Homo sapiens: one gene and its partner. The protein of the gene in region 1 interacts with the protein of each later gene in a biochemical or structural test. Each region holds a gene or a part of one and is shown on either strand. Other genes may lie near its edges.

Region 1 (7,443 bases):
TAACTTGTAAATAGCTTTCTTTGGAATTGAAGGAGTCTGAGACACAAACATCTTGTAAAAGGGTCTGTTGAGGTATGGTTACATTCTTGGTCTTCTTTCTGTAATAGATAATGAGATACCAGAGAGGAGAAGAAAAACAATTGTTCTTGGTGGGTCCTGACTTTAGGCAGATAAAGAAACTTCAGGGAACAGCTTCGTCCTATGCTTTGGGAGAGACAGGGGTTGGGCAGGGGTAGAGGGGAAGGTCAGATAGACCTTAAGCCTTCTTCAGATCAGCATGTCAAAATGCCACATTTTGGGGTAACAGTTTCTGAGCCCCAACAGCCCTTATAGGTGACCTCTCTCCCAAGAACAACTCTTGCCAGCTTTTAGAAGCACTGCTTTCACTCTTTGCCCCTTGTTAAAGAAAAAGTTATTGCGACACTTGCCAAAATGGTAAGGATGATTTATTTCAAGACTATAGCAACAGGGGCTTTGTGATGGGGAGGAGCAATCACGCTCTACTCCAAATACAACAGGGATAAGTGAAGATTTACAGCCCAGGTGCAGGGTAAGGGTCAGTGGATGGAAAATTACTAAGAGGAGATATCAGTGCTGGCAGGATTCTTGCTAAACCCTTCTAAATAGGATTCTTGCTAAAGGCAGACCAAGGGCTTAAATATCAAAGGTGGAGAATGAGGAACTGAAGCAGATATCAAAAGTGATGAGATATCAAGAGTGGAGTAGGAGATCTTCCTAAACTCACTTCACAGGATCCTTACCGAGACTGGGCTAGGGAAACTGAAAACAGGACGGGGGGCCAAGGTCAAAGCTTAGTTGGGAAGAGGGCTAGAGGAGCCTGACTAAACTTTAGTCAAGGAGAGTCTTCGTCACCCTTCAGACTTCCTGTTGCCGATCCCTCCACCTCACCATCCCTTGCTGGTTCCTGCCTACCCTCTGCACATAGTCCTTTCATTAAACTCCCTTTGATTAAACCGTTTGAGCCACAGTTTCTCCTTCTTCTGCCAGGCCCCTGCCTGCTCATCCCTACCTACCTCACAGAGCTCTGTTAATTAATAAGAAGATGCACACAAAAGAGCTTGTGAAGCCTAAGTACAAGGAGACCATCTCCATGTTGGAGAGGAATCCCAGTACCATGCAAAGAGCTCTAGGCACCAAGGAAAAACTTCCCTTTTGCCCTCTGAAGTTCCACTGAAAATCAACTGAAAAAAAAAAAGGCAGATTCATAGGCGAAAAGGCATGCAAATTTTAAAATGTGCACAGGAGTCTTTCAAAACACAACTCAAAGAAATGGCCAGAGGGTGGACGCTTTCATATTCCATCTTGAAGTTACAGGAAGAATGGGGGCTTATGGTGTGTGGCAAAATAGGTTGGGGGGTGGTGGAGAAGAGGAGGCCTGGCTGGTAAAGTTGGGCTTGTTATGCAGATGAAACCTCACAGGTAGCAGGCCTAAGAGAGGACAGATTGTGTGTGTGTGTGTGTCTTTCAGACAGTTAAGGTGTTGAACTCTCAGTTAACCTTTCTTAGATCTGGATATGGGAGGTTCCACAGAGAAAGCCTGGCTGCATCAGTGCAGAGTTCTCTCTCCAGATGCAATCTCCCCAGTAAAAGACAGCCTTGCAGGGCTACTTCTGTTTGGAGGCCCTCTGAACAGCCATCTCAAAATATGTCAAATAATAGAGTGAAATATTTTGTTTCCTTCACGACACAGGCTTGGGCTCAGTCCTGAATTCAAATCCTGGCTCCTCCCCTTATTAGCTGTGCTGATGGAGGCAAGCACTTATCTTTCCTAAGCCTCAAGTTCCCATCTCTTTTATGGTCTTGGAGGACTGGATATGATAACACACCCGAGCTTCCTAACAGACTCCCCAGCACACGACAGGTGGTAAATATATGGTTAGTTTTCCTACCTCTTCCCTTCTACCCCTATTGTGAAATTGTCTTAGGCAGGTTTTAAGGACCTTTCAGGGAGCACTTCAATCCCTTTTCTCAACTCTCTGAGAGGCAGAGCTTCCCATTTAAGCAAGAATGGCTTGCTACAGGCCAGAAATGTATTGAATTGCCCAGAACTAATGTTGTTTTGTTTTTTCATCAGATATCACGAAGCTCTGGTATAAAGCACGGATTGCATTTTTGTGTTGTTTTCTTTTTATTTATTTCAACGCCAAACAGCCATACGCAGCGTTGTTACAGAAAACATTCAAACAACACAGAAATCTGTATAGTAAAAATTGCAAGTCCTTACCTCAGGCACTTTGCGATGGATATTTAGGGTGCTGCGGTTCAAGCAGCCTAGGAAATAACATTTTTCTTTCTAGCCTGAAACTTGAACCAATTGAGAAATAAGATCAAGACAGATGCGGCCAAATATCACTTTATAAAGTCAGTATTGCAGAATGTGGTTTATACTTGTAGGCAAGTGGGTTTCCTAACTAAACCCCAGAATTAGAGAGACAACAGTTCATACTGGACCAGTTCCAGTAGAGCCTCGACCACTAATCACAGCCTGGCCCAGGGAAATCCAGTTACAGGCTCTCTGTAGGGGGGCACACTGTCAAAGGAAGGAGAGAGGAGGGGACCGAACTCATGCCAGTTCCTTATTCCAAATGCATCAATCATGTAAGCTGGCCTCACCTGTGTATACGTGCCTGCATGCATGCTTGCGTGTGGGTGCACATGAGAGAGAGGTGGGGGATAGACAGACAGAGAGAGGGAAGGGGTAGAAACAAGTCAGGAGCATTATAGTAATGACTGCTGCCCATGAGAAAGAAAGAAATAAGGGTGATTCCCTTTCCCCATATATCATCTCGTTTCCTGCCACTGTCATAGTGCTTCCGCAAACATCCTTGCACATTTCATTAGGCCCTTGGGTGAGTATTTATGTAGAAAGAGTTTCTAGCAGGGGGTTGGTGATTATGTATACTTTAGGTTTGATGTGTACTGAGCATTGGTTTTGGACCTAGGAGCTGAATGGATTTTCCTCCCTTTTATTTCTGCTGGGATTTACCAGCCTCAATTTACTAATAGTCTCTTCCGGTAGGGAAGGCTGCTAAGGACAACACATTGTTACCTTAACAGCTGCATGGCCTTCTGCGTAAGGGCCAGTTACAGAGAGTCGGGTCAGCCATGTAAGGGTAGATTCAGGCTTTCCTGTCTGAGCCTCTGAGTTGCAGTACCCAGACATGTAATGAATCCTCCTCCACCTCCAATGCCCTCCTCTGTCAAATGGACATCGTATCACCTAGGGGTGTGAGGGAGAATTAAATGAGCTGATGTACTTAAAGTGCCTGGGAGAAAGATCAAGAAAGGAGGAGAGAGAAGAAGGAAGGGAGTGGGCACCAGTGCAGACTAAGGAAAATTGAGTTTGCAAGACCCATCTAGTGCTGGGCCCAGTGGCTCATGCCTGTAATCCCAGCACTTTGGGAGGCCGAGGTGAGAGGATCTCTTGAGCCCAAGAGTTCAAGACCAGCCTGGGCAACATGGTGAGACTCTCTTTTTTATGTAACAGTAAAAAAGGGCCATCGCCCTGTACTAAGAGGCCAAAAGAGACGCCTTGTACTAAGAGGACGTCTTGTACTAAGAGACGCCTTGTACTAAGAGGCCAAAAGCAAACCTCCAGGATACACAGCACCGATGGAGAGGGCTACTGGGACTACCTGCCTGAGGCTTAAATAGCCTCCCAGGGGGTTCATCCTCAGGACGGTCCCCAGATGCCTGAGTGTACCACAGATCCTCCTTGGTCATCATCAAAGGAGGAGTTCATGGGAGTGAAACTTCATGGAATTAGCGCTAATGACTTCAATAATGAAAAAATCGGAAATAAAGTGCAAGGTAGCTATCGGGGGGAATAGATGCAATGGGCCTCGACTGTGTGACAACTTTCAGTCCGAGAGTGGGTATTATCAGACGTGTTGTTAGGGATGAGAAAGCCGAGGCTTACAAAGGTGACCTAAGTTGCCCACCGGCCCCCAGCGAGCTTGCGCTTTCTGTCCGTGGACTCCAGAGACAGTGCTCTTTCCGGACCCGGGGTTGGGCGGGATTGCCGCGTAGAAGGCTAAGCCAGCGTGCCCTCTCCTGGCCTCCTCCAGCTTGGGCCCAGCCTGCGGGAGCCGACTCCGGGTCCCCGCGCCCTCCCTCTGCCTCCTCCCCTGCCAGCCTCCGCGCCGACCCCGCGCCAGTCCCTGCCGGGTGGAGGAGGCGCGCCGGCAAAGCCGCGTCCTGATCAATGGGGCGGGCGGCTTAGCGCGCGCGGCCACCTGGTCCGAGGAGGAGCAGTCCCGGGGCCCGCCGCAGGTCGGGTGGCTCAGCCATGGCTCCTCGGGGCGCAGCGGCCGGCCGGAGCCCGGGACCCTGCGCGGGGCGCTGAGCTCCCGAGCGGGCAGAGGGCACGGGCAGGCGGACGTCGGGGCGCCCTCGGGGAACGTGCGGGCACCATGCGTCCCCACCTGTCGCCGCCGCTGCAGCAGCTACTACTGCCGGTGCTGCTCGCCTGCGCCGCGCACTCGGTGAGTACTGCGCCCTTCTGCAGGCTGGGGACCCGAGGGAGCGACAGTCTCGCCCTTTCTCCGGCCTCGGGCAGGATGCAGGTGGAGAGGGACTAGCAGATCTTCCCATGAGGAATAGGGACTCTTCCCTCCCAATCCTCCCAACATTAATCTCTCCCAGCTCTTCTCCGGAGGGACCCTTTCCCAAAGAAAAACATCGTGCGCGCCAGACGAAGGCGGCTCTAAGATGAATCCCTGTGCCCACCACCGACCCCTTCCTCTGGTCTGGCTTCTGAAACTCTCCTACACGGAAATTCTGGAGCCGCCCGTGGCAGTGCCTACTGTGTCCTGGGCGCTTTGCCTCCAATCTTTCCTTGAAACCTGGTAATCACCTTTCGAGGCTGCTATTATCACCGTCACTTTACAGACAAAGAAAGGAAAGGAAAGGAGAGGAGAGGGGGAATAAAAATTCTTGCTGCAAGTCAGAAAAAGAGGATTGGAACCCACATCAGTATCAGTCTGCCCCCAAACCTTGACATTTTCACACTCACGGGCTGCGGATGGGAAAACCTGAGGGAGCTCTGGCAGGAGCTTCTGGGTCTGCGATGGGACCGCCTGCCGCTCTCCCCACACCGTCTCGTGTGGGATGCGGCTCCCTAATGTCTGCGTGCCTGGTGGCTCCAGGGCGCTGCTGTTCCCCAAAGCCAGGTCCTGGCAAGGGGCTGGAGGAGGAAAATAATAATAATAATAATAATAATAATAATAATAATAATAATAATAATAGCGGCAGGATGGGTGGTTTGTTTTTCTTTCCAACAGAAATTCCTGGGAGTCCCGGGCCTCTCTGAGCTCCGGGATCTCTGATAAAGAGAGTGGCCCCACCCAGACCAGCAGAAAGGAAGGAATGGGGAGGGAGTGGGGGTTAGAGGTGGGGGCCAGATTCCAGAATCATCCCTTCCCACTAGCATTCCAAATTGGTCCCCAAGTCGTCTCTTCCAAGAAGCTCCCCAGGGAACGCGCTTGGGGACCCAACTGAGTCTCTGATCTCTGTCCTGGGCAAGTCTCATGGTGTCCAGCCTCCTTGTCTTCCCTTAGTCTCCTCTGGTTTGATTATAAGGAAAACCAATGCTCCCGGAGCCGACCAGAGTGTTGACACTCAGGAGATGCTCATTTTTCTGGTAGCCCCAAGACTTTCAGCAGCAGTAGTTGGGATGAGTGCAATTTGGAGCTTGCTTGGAGCTCCCTTGCCACCGTGGAGCCTCCTCTCTTCAGTGGCAGTGCTGGCCTTGGAAGACGCTAGAGCAACAGCATGCACTCATGAGTTTTGACTCCCAATTTGGAGAAATGCCAACTGGGATACTGGGGACAGTGCAAAGCCAGGTAGAGCCAGAAGGTGTGTTATTCCGTGGCTGGGGGTGGGAGAGGCAATAGCTCCTTCCTTGGGACCCTCCCAGCCTCCTTCTTAAGTATTTGCAGTGACTCTGAGACTGTCGTAACTGGTACCTCGAGTGCAGGACTGAGGTTCAGCCTACATTTTTATCTCAAGGAAATCCCTGGATTATCACAGGAATAAATGGAAGGGGAAAATGAGAGGCTTCACTTGGTTTAAGTCTTCAGTGTACCTTGGAAGGATGCTTCATTATGCTATGGTCCCAATCCCTCATTTTAAAAATGAGCACACTGAGACTCTCAGAGAGAAGGGAGCTGCCCGAGATCAGCAAGTTAGTAGTAGAGCCGGGACTAGCAGCTCTACTCGCCCCACATACCCCACTTAACCCACTAAGGTTAGCACCCAGATCTCTTGATTCCCAACCATCCAGGGCTCTGTCTTTTATACCCCTTGTATTTCCTTTTTCTTTTTCTTTTTTTTTTTTCTTTTGAGACAGAGTTTCACTCTTGTTGCCCAGGCTGGAGCGCAGTGGCGCGATCTTGGCTTACTGTAACCTCCGCCTCCCAGGTTCAAGGGATTCTCCTGCCTCAGCCTCCCAAGTAGCTGGGATTACAGGCATGTGCCACCATGCTCGGCCAATTTTTTGTATTTTTAGTAGAGATGGGATTTCTCCATGTTGGTCAGGCTGGTCTGAAACTCCTGACCTCAGGTGACCTGCCTGCCTCGGCCTCCCAAAGTGCTGCGATTAGAGGCATGAACCACCGCGCCCGGCGGTCCCTTGTATTTTCAAATGTGCATTACTGCCTTACATAATCACAAGATGGTTTCCTGTGTATAAGTCGTGGTCCTTGGGTTATTTTACGGCTTCTGTAGACCTTAGATCTCACACTTCTTGGCTGAGAACTCCTGTAATAAATAGGAGTGGAACTGACCTACTTTGGTTGGAATATTTCCCAGCCTCTGGAGCCCTGCTTTCCTTCTGTTTGACTCTGGGTGGTCACACATTTGATTTTGAAATCTAAGTGTGTTCAAATAATTTTTTATTCATTTGAAGCTCCCCCTTGAGGGAGATTATAGGCATCTTCCCAATGGAGGGGGGTCAGTGAGGCCAAATTGCTTATTACCGCTCTCCCTCTACTCCATATAGGGAGGCGTCAGAAGTGACCCTTGTAAGTGAAACCCAAAAAGTGGCCGAATGGGGCAGTTTTCTGAGGCCTCCCTATAAGAAATACTGATCACAGCCCCCTCTGCGGCCCCACCCCCATACATCTCATGAGAACTTTTACCTGGAACATTACTGTAATTATTTACTAACACATCTGTCCCCCAAACCCCAATATGCACACTTTGAACTTGAACATGGAGACTCATCTTGTTCATCTTTCATCCCTAGAGTCTGTCACAGTGTAAGAAGGAGCTCAGTGAGTGTTTGTTGAATGAATGCATGGATGACTGAATGAAATCATGCTGATGCAGCAACAAATAAGGAAGAATCACCTCTTGAAAGCACTCCTTACTTGCTAAATTGTACAGAAATGTGTCAGGCTGTAGAGAAAGAGTCACTCAAGG
Region 2 (7,434 bases), on another chromosome or scaffold:
TTCATTTCAATATTTTCTTTTTTTATTTTTATTTATTTATTTATTTATTTTTAATTGAGACTGAGTCTTGCTCTGTTGCCCAGGCTGGAGTGCAGTGGTGTGATCTCAGCTCACTGTACCCTCCACCTCCCAGGTTCAAGGGATTCTTCTGCCTCAGCCTCCAGAGTAGCTGGGACTACAGGCGTGCACCACCACACCCAGCTAATTTTTGTATTTTTGGTAGAGACTGGGTTCCACCATGTTGGCCAGGCTGGTCTTGACCTCCTGACCTCAAGTGATCTGCGCACCTTGGCCTCCCAAAGTGCTGGGATTACAGGCCCACTGCACCTGGCCTCAATAGTGTCTCTAGAACAACCCAACATCCACATGCAAAAAGATGAATTGAGAACATTACCTCACACCATGCAATTAGATTAACTCAAAGTTAATCTTAGTAACAGATCTAAATTGAAGAAGTAAAACTTGTAGAAACACTAGAAGAAAACAAAGGAGAAAGTCATTGCATGCTTAGATTAGGCAAAGATTTCTTGAGTAAGATACCAAAAATAAGATCCATAAAATAACTCACTGATAAACCAAACTTCATGAAAACATCATTACCAATTTTGCATCTCAAAAGACGCAGTGGGTTTGTGTTGTTTCATGCACACGAACAATGGGTTTGGGTTGTTTACTGCAGCCCTGGCCACAGTGTGCACTGACCCTGTGATCATAGTGTGCTACATCTGCCTTGAATAATTACCAGAGTTCAGTCCCCTGGGATCACACATGTGCTGTCCAACTCTAGGACCAACTGGAGTTTGCAAGACCCTGGGTATGTGCTGTGTATTACATAACTCCAGCACTGACCAGGACATGCAATTACCCTGTCCAGGTGTCCTGTCCAGCTCCAGCACTGGAATGTGGCATCCTTTAAAAGGGGAATACTCTTTCTGTCTGGCTCCCAGCTGATCCCTAGAGTTTAGACGGGCCTCACATATAGTACATGGTGAGTGTAGAAGAGAGAGTAAGGAATACGTGTTCATTTTGCTTGGTCACCTTTGAAACTCCTGACAATACGGGTTCAAGTCTTCATCCAACTGCCCAGAGAAACTGACATCACCAAATTAAGTTTCCCTGCCATTCAGAAGTTGCAGCTGTTTCCAGCTGTTGGGATGCTTGCCAGCCATTCACTGTCACACCTGACCCACCCCTAGCATCTGGGCCAACACTGCTTCTCATCCTGCTGGTCTCAGAAGGTCCCAGATTGGGGAAAGGGATGTCTGGGTCAGTGTAGACAGAATTGCTCTTACAACTGCAAACTGTGCTGCTTTCTGGGATCAGAGATTCCTCACACAAAAATCTCTCAGGTGACAGAAGTGGGCATCCAGAGCTATTCCTAAGACGAGATCCTTTGGGCTGGGTGAACCATGCCCCTGGCTTAGAGGCCAGCTAATCTGGAATCCCAGGTCGGTCATTTGGGGACATCTCTTCCCCAGTGTGTCTCTCAGCACAGGGATTCCATGTCACTTAACAGATGGTAAGATCACAGGGTGACTTTAGTCAGAGGAAAACGCCCTGGAGAACTGTTTAAAACTCTCTAACGGGCCAGGCACGGTGACTCACGCCTCTAATCCCAGCACTTTGGGAGGCGGAGGTGGGTGGATCACCTGAGGTCAGGAGTTCCAGAACAGCCTGGCTAACATGGAGAAACCCCATCTCTATTAAAAATACAAAAAATTAGCCGGGTGTGGTGGCACACGCCTGTAATCCCAGCTACTCAGGAGGCTGAGGCAGGAGAGTCATTTGAACCTGGGAGGCGGAGGTTGCAGTAAGCCAAGATCGTGCCATTGCACTCCAGCCTGGGCAACAAGAGTAAAACTCCATCTCAAAACAAAAACAAAAACAAACCCCAAAAACAACAAACAACAAACAAAAACCTCTGTATAAGGCAGGGTCTCTCATTGGAGCCAAGGTCTGTCATGTGGGGCCGCGTCATTCCTTGCAGTGGAAGCTGACCTGCACATCGAAAGCTGTTTACCAGCATTCCTGGCCTGCACCCACTTAATGCCAACACCAAATGCCTCTCCCTATTTGTGACAACCAAAAATACCTCCAGACATTTCCCAGCGGCCTCAGGGAGACAAAAATCCCCCCCAGGGCTGAGAACCACTATTCTAAGGGATGCCAGCTTTGAAAGAAGCATTAGGATGAAAATTTGTAGGGTTCCGATTTCACGAAGCCTAGGAGAGGGAAGTCTGGATGCTCAGAGCGCAGTAGACTGTCTTGCTTTTAAAACTGTGACCAGCAAGGACCAACTACTCACTGCAAATAACGACACCCACCTAGTCTCACTGCTTACCAGTTTTCTGGAAACTCCTAAACAAGGGCTGCTTGAACAAGCCGCCTTCTAAACGCCCAGCTGGACTAAAAGGCTGGTCTTGTGCAGACCAGGGCAGCCCCCCTGAACCCGCAGCCCTGCAGAGCTCACCCGAACTTGCCAGGTTTAGAAATATTCTCTGTGAAGCCAACTTAGCAGTACTCCCCAGCAGTTAGTTAATTCACCTTCTCCCCGCTGTCAACCCACCAGAAGCCTGCAAGCAAACCTCTAGAAAAATGTAGAAGCAAAACAAACACTTCCTCCTCCCTCACCACGCCCACCCACGGGAAAGTGCCCCTTCGCACTCTCCTCCCACTTCTCAGCCAAGACGCTCCTCTTACCTTCATACCTTGGACAACTGGAAATCGCCACCCATGATGACAGCCCGGGTCACACGAAGGGGGCGAGGTGGGGCGGGGGGAGCTGACCTCAGCACCTTTAGCTTTTGGGAGTCCCTGTACCTCCACAGAGCCACTTCGGAAACTTTAGGGCGCCCCCTCCTCAAGACGATTCGGGAACAAGAGGCCAGGTCCAGCCCAGCGCGGAGGCTGTGTGGCCTTGGGCAGGTCGCTGCAACACTCTGAGCCAGTACCCGCGACCCCCACCCCAGAAGGCGACCGACCTCCTCTGTCGCCGGAGGATACTCACGGGGCCTGAGGCTGCGCGGCGCGCACGCCGTCCCGCGCCGACAGCAGCAGGAGCAGGAGCGGGAGCAACGGCCAGAGCAGGGCGCCGCTCATTTTTCGGCTCCTGGGGGGCGCCGCGCCTGGGGAGGGGGCCGGGCCAGGGCTGGGCCAGGGCCAGGGTCCGAGCGCGGCCGTCCTCGCGCCGCCGCCGGGGGCCCTTTGTTCGCAGCCCCCGCGCAGTGCGCCCGGCGCCATGCGCCCCGCTCCGCGCCCGGCCAAGCTGGGGCAGCCCCGGGCCAGCCCCCTCCCCGGACCCGCCTCGTCTCCGGGACCGCCCCGCTCGCCCCGCTCGCCCCGCTCCTGGGCGCACCCTCCCGGGACGCCTGCTCCGCCCATCTCCGGACCCCGACCCGCCCCGATCCCTTCCGGGGATCGTCCCCTCACTTACTCACCGGACCCACCCGGGCCCTGCCCGATTCCTTCCGAACCCGCCTCCTCACCCCCTACCCGGATTCGCCCCCGGATGCCCCCCTCCCCACCAGCCCCGCCTCGGACCCGACCCCCCACCGCCCCCACTCTCCCTCTCCTCTCCACCCAGCGTCCACTCGGAACCTGTCCCTTCCCTGGCCTCTCCCTCCCTCCCTCCCCAGCCAGCCCCTTATGGCCCCCTCCCCGGGCCCGCCCCTCACCAGGGGCCCCTGGGTCTGGACGCCGCCTGCAACCCCGATCCCACAGGCGCCGCCGTGCCCTAAGCCCTGGCCTGTATCTAGTGCCCAGTGCAGTGCGTACAGCCCAAGGAGCAGAGGACCCTTTGGGGAAACAGTCTAGCCAGGGGTCGAACCTCCCAGACTCACATCTGCCCCAGGTCCCTATCTGTGCTCTCTGCTCCCCTCTCCCCCACCCCCACTGTCCACAAATCCCTTGGGCCCGTCCCCTCTCTCGCTGGGCCTCAGAGTCCCCCTTTCCCCTTCATACAGCAGGGGTGGATGGGCACCCCCTTTCTCTCCAAGAGCAGGGTGTCCCCTCCTGCCCCTCCCCGTGTGGCCACCTCAGTGATGGTCCTGCTGTCCTAGGTCCCACTGGCAGGCGGCACATCCTATACCATGTCCAAGTCCTGGACCCCCTCCTTCCAGTGTGGAACCCCCTTCCCCCAGCTACCAACTGCCCTTCTTCTAAAATTCCAGTGCTGACCACACCCCCTCCTGCCCGGAATCCTCGGGGCTCCCTGTTTATTTTACATTTTATTTTTATGTTTTGAGACCAGAGTTTTGCTCTGTTGCCCAGGCAGGAATTTAGTGGTGCAGTCACAGCTCACTGCAGCTTCAGACTCCTGGAGAGTAGCTGGGACTACAGGTGCAAGCCCGCACCCAGCTAATTTTTATATATTTTTTTTTAGAAACGGAGTCGCACTGTGTTGCCCAGGCTGGTCTTGAGCACTGGGCTCAAATGATCCTCCCTCCTCAGCCTCCCAAAGTGCTGGGATTACAGGTGTGAGCCACCACATCCAGCCAGGGCTTCCCGTTTATTGAGACCAAATCTAAACTCTGGCTTTGATGGCAGAGACCTCAGCCTAGTTCCTCCAACACCCTGTTCTTACTCCACTGCCTGCTTCTGCCTAATCTCTGTCTTCCTCTACCTGCCTCCTTTGCCAGTCCAACTCCTGATCCTTCCAGGAAACTCAAGGGAAGCTTCTCTTGCCCCCTCCCTGCCCCTAGGGATGTGGGTCCTCTGGGGGCTTCTCAGCCCTGTCAACAGCCTTTGGACCCAACACTGATCACCCAGGCAGCACCAAGCCCTGGGCTGGGCAATGAGGACCCTGGGACATACAGGACCTGCTGCCACTGAGCACACAACCCAGAGGGGACGTAACTGATGATGGTGTGTTGGTGTGTGTGTGTGCGTGCACGCGCGCAGGGGCCGGAGTAGATTGAGTAGCCGTCTCTCCTGCCTGGAGAAGAGGAGGAGCTGCCTGCCTCCAAGCTCAGACCAGGCCAACCCCAAACAGGCTGCTAAACTCACATGGAGGTGCAAAAATCTAGCACCAAGAAGCAGCATCTGATCTCACCCTCATCATCGAAGTTTGCCCCATGCCACCCCTCCGGGCCCCTCCAGGCCAACTCTGACTCCTACCTAAGCCAACCTCCACTCCTCAGCCTCCAGGCCAGCCTTTGAGCCCTCCGCCTCCCCCTTGACCATTGGGCTCTGGCCACATTTGCTCCTGAGATACATCAGACCCCCACCCACCACCACCATCTTGGGCCAAGGTGCCAGCTGTCCCCTCTGCCTGGGATGCACTTCCCCGTGGCATCACAAGACCGGCTGCTCTCCTCCACCTTCAGGGTTAGCCCGGAGGTGCCTTCCCTGCCTGCCTGGTTTGTAAGGTCTAAAATGTCAGTGCTGCCTTGGCATGGTTGAGCCACACAGGACCACGATGTCCTGACCGACCGTTCAGCTACTCTTGCCAAATATGCCCCCTGCCTGGCAAGAGAAGCTGCTCTCCACCTGGCTGTCTCACCAAGCAACCAGACCAGCTGCACCCCACCCATCAGCCACAGACTTCACTTCCCTAGCTGCTGAGAAGTTATTGAAACAAGCCATGCCCAGTCGTGGTGGCTCATGCCTGTAATCCCAGTACTTTGGGAGGCCGAGGCAGGTGGATCACCTGAGGCCAGGAGTTCAAGACCAGCCTGGCCAACATGGTGAAACCTCATCTCTACTAAAAATACAAAAATTAGCCAGGTGTGGTGGTGCACACCTGTAATCCCAGCTACTCGGGAGGCTGAGGCAGGTGAATCACTTGAACCCAGGAGGTGGAGTTTGCAGTGAGCCGAGATTGCGCCACTGCACTCCAGCCTGGGTGACAGAGTGAGACTCCGTCTCAAAAAAAAAAAAAAAAAAAAAGAAAGAAAGAAACCAATCACATCCTCCCAGGAGAACCAGGGGCTGCCTCACCCTCTTATTACTACAAAGCCTGCTTCCCACAGCCCCTGCTTGTTCATTGTGCTCCCGAGTGCAACCCCTGTGTGGCCTCACACAGTGTACAGGGTCCTCCTCCCGTCATTGTGTGAGAATAGGTGAGCACTAAACTGTAGATCTCACCCACCCAATGTCACATGTTGTATGTTTGGCCATCTCATACTCTTTTTTTTTTTTTTTTGAGACGGAGTCTTGCTCTGTCGCCCAGGCTGGAGTGCAGTGGTGCGATCTTGGCTCGCTGCAAGCTCCGCATCCCGAGTTAACACTTTTCTCCTGCCTCAGCCTCCCAAGTAGCTGGGACTACAGGCACCCGCCACCACGCCCGGATAATTTTTTGTATTTTTAGTAGAGACGGGGCTTCACCATGTTAGCCAGGATAGTCTTGATCTCCTGACCTCGTGATCCGCCCTCCTGGGCCTCCCAAAGTGCTGGGATTACAGGAGTGAGCCACCGCGCCCGGCCTATTTTTTTTTTTTTTAACGGAGTCTCACTCTGTCACACAGGCTGGAGTGCAATGGCGTGATCTCAGCTCACTGCAACCTATGCCTCCCGGGTTCAAGCGATTCTCCTGCCTCAGCCTCCCAAGTAGCTGGGACTATAGGCGCCTGCCACCATGCCTGGCTAATTTTTGTATTTTTAGTAGAGACAGGGTTTCACCATGTTGCCCAGGCTGTTCTCGAACTCCTGACCTCATGTGATCCACCTGCCTTAGCCTCCCAAAGTCCTGGGATTACAGGCATGAGCCACTGTGCCGGGCCCATCTCATACTATTTAGAGCAGCAGTCCCCAACCTTTTTGGCACAAGGGACAGGTTTCATGGAAGACATTTTTTCCATGGACAAGGGGCAAGGTGATGGGAGGGACAGTGATGGTTTTGGGATGATCAAGTGCGTGACATTTATTGTGCACTTTATTTCTATTATTGTTACATTGTAATATAATGAAATAATGATACAACTCACCATCGCGTAGAATCAGTGGAAGCCCTGAGCTGTTGTTTTCCTGCAGCCAGAGATCCTACCTGGGGGTGATGGGAGACAGTGGCAGATTATCAGGCATTAGATTCTCATAAGGAGCATGCAACATAGATCCCTCGCATGCACAGTTTGTAATAGGGTTTGGGCTTCTCTGAGAATCTAATGCTGCCGCTGATCTGACAGGAGGTGGAGCTCGGGCGATAATGTGAGCGATGGGGAGAGGCTGTAAATACAGATGAAGCTTTGCTTACTCATCCAATATCAGACCAGTGTCAGTCTGTGGCCCAGGGGTTGGGGACCCTTGATTTAGATCATGGGTGAATAGGAGCCAATGAGGACACTAGCATGGCCCGGTCATCCAGTTTGACTGCATGGTACACAAAACACAGAGCATGGTCTTATTATTCCATACACATCTGCTTCCTGTCTGTCTTCTTTGGGATGTGAGCCCCCCGTTTGCTGCTGGCCGCAGCCCCTGGCTCAAAGTGGGCACACC

The links.
Region 2: the proteins of SCTR (region 1) and CPAMD8 interact in a test that uses a peptide from one of them, tested with the Homo sapiens proteins (one study listed by BioGRID).

The regions. Positions count from the first base shown.
Region 1 is NC_000002.12:119,521,217-119,528,659, reverse strand, and holds the start of SCTR (secretin receptor precursor), read left to right. Parts: upstream 1-4,176; 5' UTR 4,177-4,433; coding exon 4,434-4,505; intron 4,506-7,443.
Region 2 is NC_000019.10:17,023,544-17,030,977, forward strand, and holds the start of CPAMD8 (C3 and PZP-like alpha-2-macroglobulin domain-containing protein 8 precursor), read right to left. Parts: upstream 3,268-7,434; 5' UTR 3,241-3,267; coding exon of another isoform or gene 3,100-3,240; coding exon 3,008-3,099; intron 2,933-3,007; exon of another isoform or gene 2,701-2,932; intron 2,590-2,700; exon of another isoform or gene 2,471-2,589; intron 1-2,470.